Regions from separate parts of the Homo sapiens genome. Here region 1 is linked to region 2. The links come from fine-mapping of genetic effects on gene expression. A gene starts in region 2. The other region holds a variant in brackets. All regions are shown on one strand. Distances are from middle to middle.

The links. PIP is the estimated chance that this variant, and not a neighbour inherited with it, causes the effect.
Region 1: its variant is the best candidate, but not a certain one, in a credible set for the expression of TAB2 in aorta (GTEx, PIP 0.69).

Annotation. Positions count from the first base shown.
Region 1 is chr6:149,378,838-149,382,837 of GRCh38, forward strand. TAB2 (TGF-beta activated kinase 1 (MAP3K7) binding protein 2) reads left to right here. Exons shown (of 7, transcript NM_001292034.3): 3 at 1-681. Among named protein-coding and RNA genes, the nearest start is that of SUMO4, 19 kb to the right of the region's middle. RefSeq lists an enhancer at 1-933. The variant CTA/C (reference allele first, on the strand shown) is at 1,638.
Region 2 is chr6:149,315,484-149,319,483 of GRCh38, forward strand. It overlaps TAB2 (TGF-beta activated kinase 1 (MAP3K7) binding protein 2), which reads left to right and starts at 2,229. Exons shown (of 7, transcript NM_001292034.3): 1 at 2,229-2,532. RefSeq lists silencers at 1,372-1,441, 1,492-2,031, 2,122-3,021 and enhancers at 3,112-3,291, 3,452-3,561.

The DNA.
Region 1 (4,000 bases), 63 kb after region 2:
CCCATAGCCAATATAACATTCAGAATATTTCAACAGGACCTCGAAAAAACCAGATTGAAATCAAACTTGAACCCCCACAAAGAAATAATTCTTCAAAACTGCGTTCTTCTGGACCTCGAACCTCCAGCACTTCCTCTTCAGTCAATAGCCAGACCTTAAACAGAAATCAGCCCACTGTTTACATAGCTGCCAGCCCCCCAAATACGGATGAGCTGATGTCCCGTAGTCAACCTAAGGTCTATATTTCAGCGAATGCTGCCACAGGAGATGAACAGGTCATGCGGAATCAGCCCACACTCTTCATATCCACAAACTCTGGAGCATCTGCTGCCTCCAGGAACATGTCTGGGCAAGTGAGCATGGGTCCTGCCTTTATTCATCACCATCCTCCCAAAAGTCGAGCAATAGGCAATAACTCTGCAACCTCTCCTCGAGTGGTAGTCACTCAGCCCAATACGAAATACACTTTCAAAATTACAGTCTCTCCCAATAAGCCCCCTGCAGTTTCACCAGGGGTGGTGTCCCCTACCTTTGAACTTACAAATCTTCTTAATCATCCTGATCATTATGTAGAAACCGAGAATATTCAGCACCTCACGGACCCTACATTAGCACATGTGGATAGAATAAGTGAAACACGGAAACTGAGTATGGGATCTGATGATGCTGCCTACACACAAGGTAATATGAATACTAAAGGTGGGATGGTTTTCCATGCTGGGCTTGTTGGTGTGCATTTGATTTCACAACAGAAATGGATGTTAGCATTGTTATTTCATTGTTTAAATATTGCCCCAAATGATGTTATTGTAACATTTGAGAGTATTATATGTATATACATTTTAATTTTAATTTTATTTTATTATTATAAAACTGGAAGTTTGAGTAATTGGGTTATCAGCTCTTCAGAGTAACCAAATCTGGTTAGTTGGTTTGTTAATGTTTATAACACTTTCTTTTCAGTTAATCTTATACCTGTGGTGATGCTGACTTTCTCTTTAAATTTTCTGTAAATAAAAATTCCTAGAAATAACGTTTTAATAAGCAACTAGTTGACTCTCTTGACTAATATGGTAAATTTGCCTTCTTTGACCAGATATTTGAAGAATAAGTAATTCTTGGCTGGGCATGGTGGCTCACGCCTGTAATTCCAGTGCTTTGGGAGGCCAAGATGGGAGGATCATTTGAGCCCAGGAGTTTGAGACCAGCTGGGGCAACATATGGAGACTCCGTCTCTACAGAAGGTTTTGAAATTATGCAGGCATGGTGGCACACACCTGTAGTCCCAGTTACTCAGTAGACTGAGGTAGGAGGATTGCTTGAGCCCAGGAGTTCAAAGGTTAGAGTGAACTGTGACCATACCACTCTGCCCCAGCCTGGGCAGCAGAGTGAGACCCTTCTCTGGGGTGGGGGGAAATTCTTCATTTTTCTAATACAACATTTTAGTCTTATTTTATATTAAGTCTATTACTGCGTAAGTATTAGAATAATTTACCTCAAAGAGAAGTTTGAATCTTGTTCCTGATATTTGTCCCTTTTATTCTCCCTTAAATGTTGGTTAATATATTTCTTTTTACATGGAATTATAAGGACATTATTTTCAAATCTTTCAATTGATTATCCTTTTCTGAAATAGA[CTA/C]TTTGATATTGGCATACTACATTATGTCTATATTAATTCAAATAGAGAAATTTCTGTCATATGTTTTATCTAACCTCTTAAGTTACATAATTTTCAGTAGGACTGTTAAATAAATACATTTAGATAAGAAGGTGGAGGTTATTCATTTTCTTGAATATTTATGCCAGTTTGTAGATGAACTGAGCCTTTTAGAGTAAGGGCATATCTTAGTCATATATGTATCTGCAGTGAATCATTTCATGTATCAGCTGTAGGTTGGAAAATACTATAACATCACCCTCAGGCAGCATGCAGCCCCTACTGTCACTAATATCCTCATCCTTTTTTACATTTCTGATACAGTGATTTTACTGCTGAGTCTCTTAGGGGGTCCTAATTGCTTTGCCTTATTTTATGTTTTAAACAGCTACACTAGTGATTCTTAGTCCAAGCTGGGTTGTGGTCCTTTCGAATTCCAGTATCATTCATGGAGCTTTAAAAAATCAGCTGGGCACAGTGGCACCCGCCTGTAGTCCCAGCTTCTCAGAAGCTAAAGTGGGAGGACTGCTTGAGCCCAGAAGTTTGAGGTTGCAGGGCACCACTGCACTCCAGCGTGGGCAACATATCGAGATCCCTATCTCAAAAATAAAGTACGCAGGGCTCTGCCCAAACTTAAGTAAAGTGAATCCTAGGTATGCGTGTGCATGTATTTGTGTGTGTGCATTTTAGGGGTACATGAGTGATTTCAATTGCCCTAGAAATTGTGTTAAAACTTTTATTTTCCATATATCTGTGATTAACTACAACCATTTTTGTTTAGTTTCAGCAGTTTATAAATGTTATATGCTATTATTTTTTCCACTTACAACTTAATTCTCCTCTTCTCCCAAAGTCACCTTCTCTTCCTGTCCTTCCATCAAAACATCAGGTTTCCTATGGTTGGATAGTTGCTGATTCTTAAGTAGCAAATTTTTTATGAAGATAATTTGATAAGGGAAATTTTCAAGTAAAGTAGGCATTCATATTTAGTGATATTAAAAAGATATTCATGTTTAACTAGAATGTGAAAATAAAGTGTTTCTTAAACTTGCTATCTTCAATTCCCCTCCTATTCTTTTTTTTTTTTTTTTTTTTTTGGGACAGGGTCTCGCTCTTTCGTCCAAATTGGAGTGCAGTGGCATGTTCACAGCTCACTTCAGCCTCAACCTCCTGGGCTCAAGTGATCCTCCCACTTTAGCCTCCCTAGTAGCTGGACTACAGGTACACACCACCACATCCAGCTAACTTTTTGTATTTTTTTGCAGACAGGGTCTCCCTATGTTGCCCAGGCTGGTCTTGAACCCCTGGGCTCAAGAGATCTGCCTGTCTCAGTCTCCCAAAGTGCTAGGATTACAGGCGTGACCTCCACACCTGGCCTGTGACTTCTTACTTCCCCCATCATCACTACTGTGGTCTCAGCAATCATCACCTTTCAAATGGATTATTGCAGTGACCTACCCATTCTCGTCCTTGCCTCCTTGCAGTCTTCTTTCAACTCAGCATCCAGGGAGATACTGTTAAAAATATGCATCAGATCATATCACTTCTCTGCACATGATCACTATCTATTGCACTCAGAATAAAAGCTATGAAGCCCTACAGGATGAGCAGCTTCTCCCCCCAGCTCTTTTCCTTTTGCTTACCACCTGCTCACTGTGTTCCAGCCCTCCTGGCCTTCTTACTCTCTTCCTTAAACATAGAAGGCAAACTTTAGGGCCCTTTTATTTGCACTAGTATTATTTTTTAGACTAAAACATTGAAGAACAGATAGATTAAGTAACTTGTCAAAGGACAAGTGGCAGAGTCAAAATTCTAACTAGAGGCTGGGCACGGTGGCTCACGCCTGTAGTCCCAGCACTTTGGGAGGCCGAGGTGGGTGGATCACAAGGTCAGGAGTTCAAGACCAGCCTGGCCAACAGGGTGAAACCCCATCTCTACTAAAAAGACAAAAATTAGCGGGGCGTGGTGGCAGACGCCTGTAATCCCAGCTGCTCGAGAGGCTGAGGCAGGAGAATCGCTTGAGCCCGGGAGGCAGAGGTTGCAGTGAGCCGAGATCATGCCATTGCACTCCAGCCTGGGTGACAGCAAGACTTTGTCTAAAGGAAAAAAAAAAAAATTCTAACTAGGAAGTTAGAGAAGCCCACAATGTTAACCACTATCATATAATGTCTTTCTTTCCAGATTTTCATAATAAACCCTCTGGAAAGATATTTTAAGTGTATCTTGTAGCTTCACTTATAGCCCATGGTACAACACTGTGGGGGCCACATGTGCCTCAATTTGAGAGGGATGTAGCTAAAAAACCATTAATTAAAAAAAGGCAACCATAGGGAAAGATAACAC
Region 2 (4,000 bases):
TTATAAACAAGGATATTCTCATGCAAACATATTCAGGAAATTTAACATTGATACAATTCTTTAATCTACAGCCCATATTCCAATTTCGCCAATTATCCCAATAATGTCCTATATGACATTTTTCTCCTCCAGTAAAGGATCCAGTTCAGGGTCACATATTGCATTTCGTTACCATGTCTTTAGTTTTTTCTAGTCTGCAGTCTTTGTCTTTTATGACATTGGTCATGATTTAAAAATACAGGCTAGTTATTTTATATTTTATTTTCCTCTACTTGGGTTTGTCTGATGCTTCCTCATGACTACATAGCTCTAAGTGCACTGCTGGTGCAAGGATGTATTTGTTATATGTACCTTCTTTGCCCCCCACTGGTTTTTAGACTTGACCTGCTCAAACCTATAATCTATAAAGCATTATATTTCTATTAAAATACGTACATGTACATTCCATAAATTTTTTTAAAAATTTGCATAAAATACATCATCCTACCATTTCAAAAGCAATTGTTGCCTCTGTACTTTATAATGGTTTCAAAGACAAGTGAAATTTACTTAATGGATTCAGTTTATCTAAAATTATTTAATCAATTATTTTATCATTGAGTATGGAAATAATTCCTCAGAGAACTGCTGTAAAGCGTTAAAGTTAATGATTTCTTCTCGCCAGTAAAACTAGAATCTTCCCAATTTTGTAAATCCTAATTTTACTTTTGCTTCTCTTAATGGTATCACCAATGGAGAATAATTAAATTCCGATATTGTAAATCATAAGTACTTTCAGCTTTTGAAGTGGCAAAGTATTTGAATTGGTGCTATAGCCCAGACTTCAGGTATTTTCAAAGGATGAATGAGGAAAAAGGAAGTGGGGAGAAAGAACTTTTAACTGTGAGGAAGGCTCTACTATTTAAAAGATGGTTTAAAAAAAATTCTCACTGTAGCTACAGTGCTCACACTGGAAATAAAAGTATAAAAATGGTCCTTTAGGATTTTTCTCTGGAGTAAGAATTGTTTCAAGGAAGAAACTGCCAGGGATATGGACATTTTGGACAGGGGCAGAAAAATGCCCTAGTGTTTTGGACACCATGGAAGCGCTAGAATTTTTAAATAAATATTTCACATTGTGAGAAACGTCTGAGTATTAAACACGCTTTTTTTTTCCCTAGGGGGACACTAAACAAATATTTATTTAAGGAGGTAGAAACTTGAAGGCCCCCCCTCTTCCCGCAAAGCTAGTCTTTGGCTCTGCTTCTAGGACTTCTAGGAACGTGCAATTAAAATAAAATCGAAACAACGAAACCCTCGCAGCATTTAGATTTCTTTTTTCCCCCTCAACTGCTCAAGAAAAGTCAGAAGCCGACACTTTTTCCAAGTCTCGAAGTTGCCAGTTGTGAGGCTCCCAAGACGTCTCCCGCACACCCTAGGGACGATTCTGCACGGGTCCCTCCCGTTAGCCGGCGGTGCGATCCGGCTCCAAGGGGGTGTGTCCCGGACCGCAGCGACCCGGCGCCAGCCTCCGCCGCGGGCCCACCTGCTCCTCTCGGCCGCCGCAGCGCCCCGGGGTCCGGCCGGGCCCCCGGACCCCACCCGCGCGGCGCCGCCGGCCGCCCGGCAAGTCCCGCCACCCACTTCCGGACCCGGCCAGCCCCTCCGCTAGGTGCAGCTGGGACGCGAGCTCAGTTCCTTTCTTCCCTCAGCCCAAACTGCTAGCGGCCCCCGTGGCGGGAGGTGGAACCCGCAACCTACCCCCAAGGATGGGGGGCCCAGGCGGAGAAAGGGGGTCCCAGCCCTCCCCGGGCTGCCCGCACCGGCACCCCCCTCGCACGGCCCCAGCGGCGGCCCGCGTCCTCCCTCCAGCCCTAGCAAGACAGGCGTAGAGACTGCGAGTGTCGGGGGAGGGGTACAGGTCGGAGGAAGAGCATCCCCGGGCCGCAGCCGCAGCCGCCGCCGCCGCCGCCGCCTGCTGCTCCCCCGCCGTTCGGCTAGGGGAGGCCTCGTCACAGCCGCCGCCTCAGCCGCGGCTGCAGATCTCGCGGTGTTTGCCGGCCGCCGCGCCGCCATATTGTGTGACAGTATTTTGATTTGGACTGGGCTGGCGGAGCCGCGGCGAGAGCGAGCGAGAGCTGGGGGGGTGGGGGGAGGGCAGGCGAGCGCGAGGGGGGTGGGGGCAGAGGGAGGTGGGGAGGCCGAGCGAGCCGGAGCTGAGGATTGGGGAGCGGCGACGCCGCCCAGCCGTCGTTTTTGATCTGCTGCAGCCGCCGGCGGGGCGACCCAGCCCGACCCCCTCCCCTCCCCCTCAGCCAGGAGCGGTGGCGGCGGCGGCGGCCGGAGGGAGTTGGCGGCGGCGGGCGAGCGGAGGGGGCTGAGCGGGGAGGGAGGGAGGGCTGAGGTGTCCCCCCTGCCGGGTGGAACCGGAGGCGGCGGCGGCGCTGGCGGCGGCCGTGGTGGCGGAGGCGACGGTGGAGACGGCTGCCCTAGTGGGAGAGGCGGCGGCGGCGGCGGCCGAGGAGGAGGAGGGGGAAGCGGCGGCGGCAAAGGGTAAGCGGACAGCGCTGCCGGGCCTCGGCGGGATCCCCAACCTGGCTCTCCCCTCATCGCCCCGCACCCCCCTCCGTCTGGAAGGGGCTCTGCCGCCTCGCGAGGCCCGTGCGGGGCGTTCGCTTCTAACTTGCACTCTTCCTCCCTCCGCCTCTTTCCTTCCCCCAGTGGCGTGGCGGAGAGGGAGGCCCCCCGAGTCCCCCAGTCCGGTGGGGGTGGGGAGCATCGGGCCGGGCCTGGGCTCCGGGGCGTCCGTGCGGGGGGGGAGGGGGAGCTTCATTGGAATCGAGCGCCTAGGAGAGCCCCGGGTGGGGGAGGGCGCAAGGGGCTCGGGAGGGCCCCTCCCTGCGTCGGCGCCCCTGACCCGCCCCCAGGCATGTGTGAGGTGGGGGCGGGGGAGGAAAAATCTCCTTTTGGGGAGCCGAGGTCTAGTTAAAGATGACTCAGGGGCGGGGGTTTTGGGGACAGACACGGGGCAGTTATGTGGGGGTCGGGCGGGAGGGAGAACATCGTTCCTTTGCGGATCTTGGTTTTCTGCAGCCGTCTTTGAAGTGGGGGGCAAGCCCTACTATGAATATGTGGCCCCTTAAATTTCACTGGATGTTTCTGGTTTTCGGTCCCATCAACCTCAAACCCTACGATTGTGGTTGAGTCAGGGAGGCTGCAAGGGTCTCTTGGCGGTGCTGAACAGGTGACAGGTGGATCTTTCTGTTGCTGATGCTGTGAGATGTTCAGGCACAGTCGTACACCAAAGTGTCAGAGACCGTGTGAGTTTGTATTTATGTGTTTGGCCATGTTTCATTCCATATATAGTATATTTGAGATGTTAGGTTTCCATTCTTCAAGTCAGCTTAATTGTTGTGGATAAATTCTTCAAATGTTTCTGATAAGAGGGTTTTCCAGGAGAGCGGAGGGAATTTGCAGCCTCACAGGGGTTTCTCCGTAGTTCACGAAATTTAGGCCCCCAGTGCAGGCTGTTGAGTACCCTTATTCATTGGAAAGTTCTTGAACGCTAAGATCGTATTCAGAGCAACTGTACGGCAATATAATTTTGCATCCATTTTGTCTGTTTTAGGTAAGTTTGTAAAGTGTCTAATTTTGGGGTCAGATTGATTCACATTTTAGAAAAGGAATTTCGTTTCCGCTTTAGCATACTCTAAAGGTTATGATGATCATTATGCAATTCCAGATTTGGCCGGGAATTTTAGTGGGCATGGAATAGAATATTTGCTTTCAGTTTTTTCACTTCTGCTTACTACACTGTTCATACAGTAGCAGAGTATTGACACCTTTTAAAAAATATCTTTACATTCTTTGTAACAATGAAATCACGATTTTAAACTTTTGACGGTTTGAAACTGTAAATTTTGAAACCATGGCAGTTTGTAATAAAGGAAGACTTGCTTTTCTTTTGTTGTAGGCTTTGGCTGAGCATTTTAATTAGAAACAATGGGAAGAATTGTTAGAT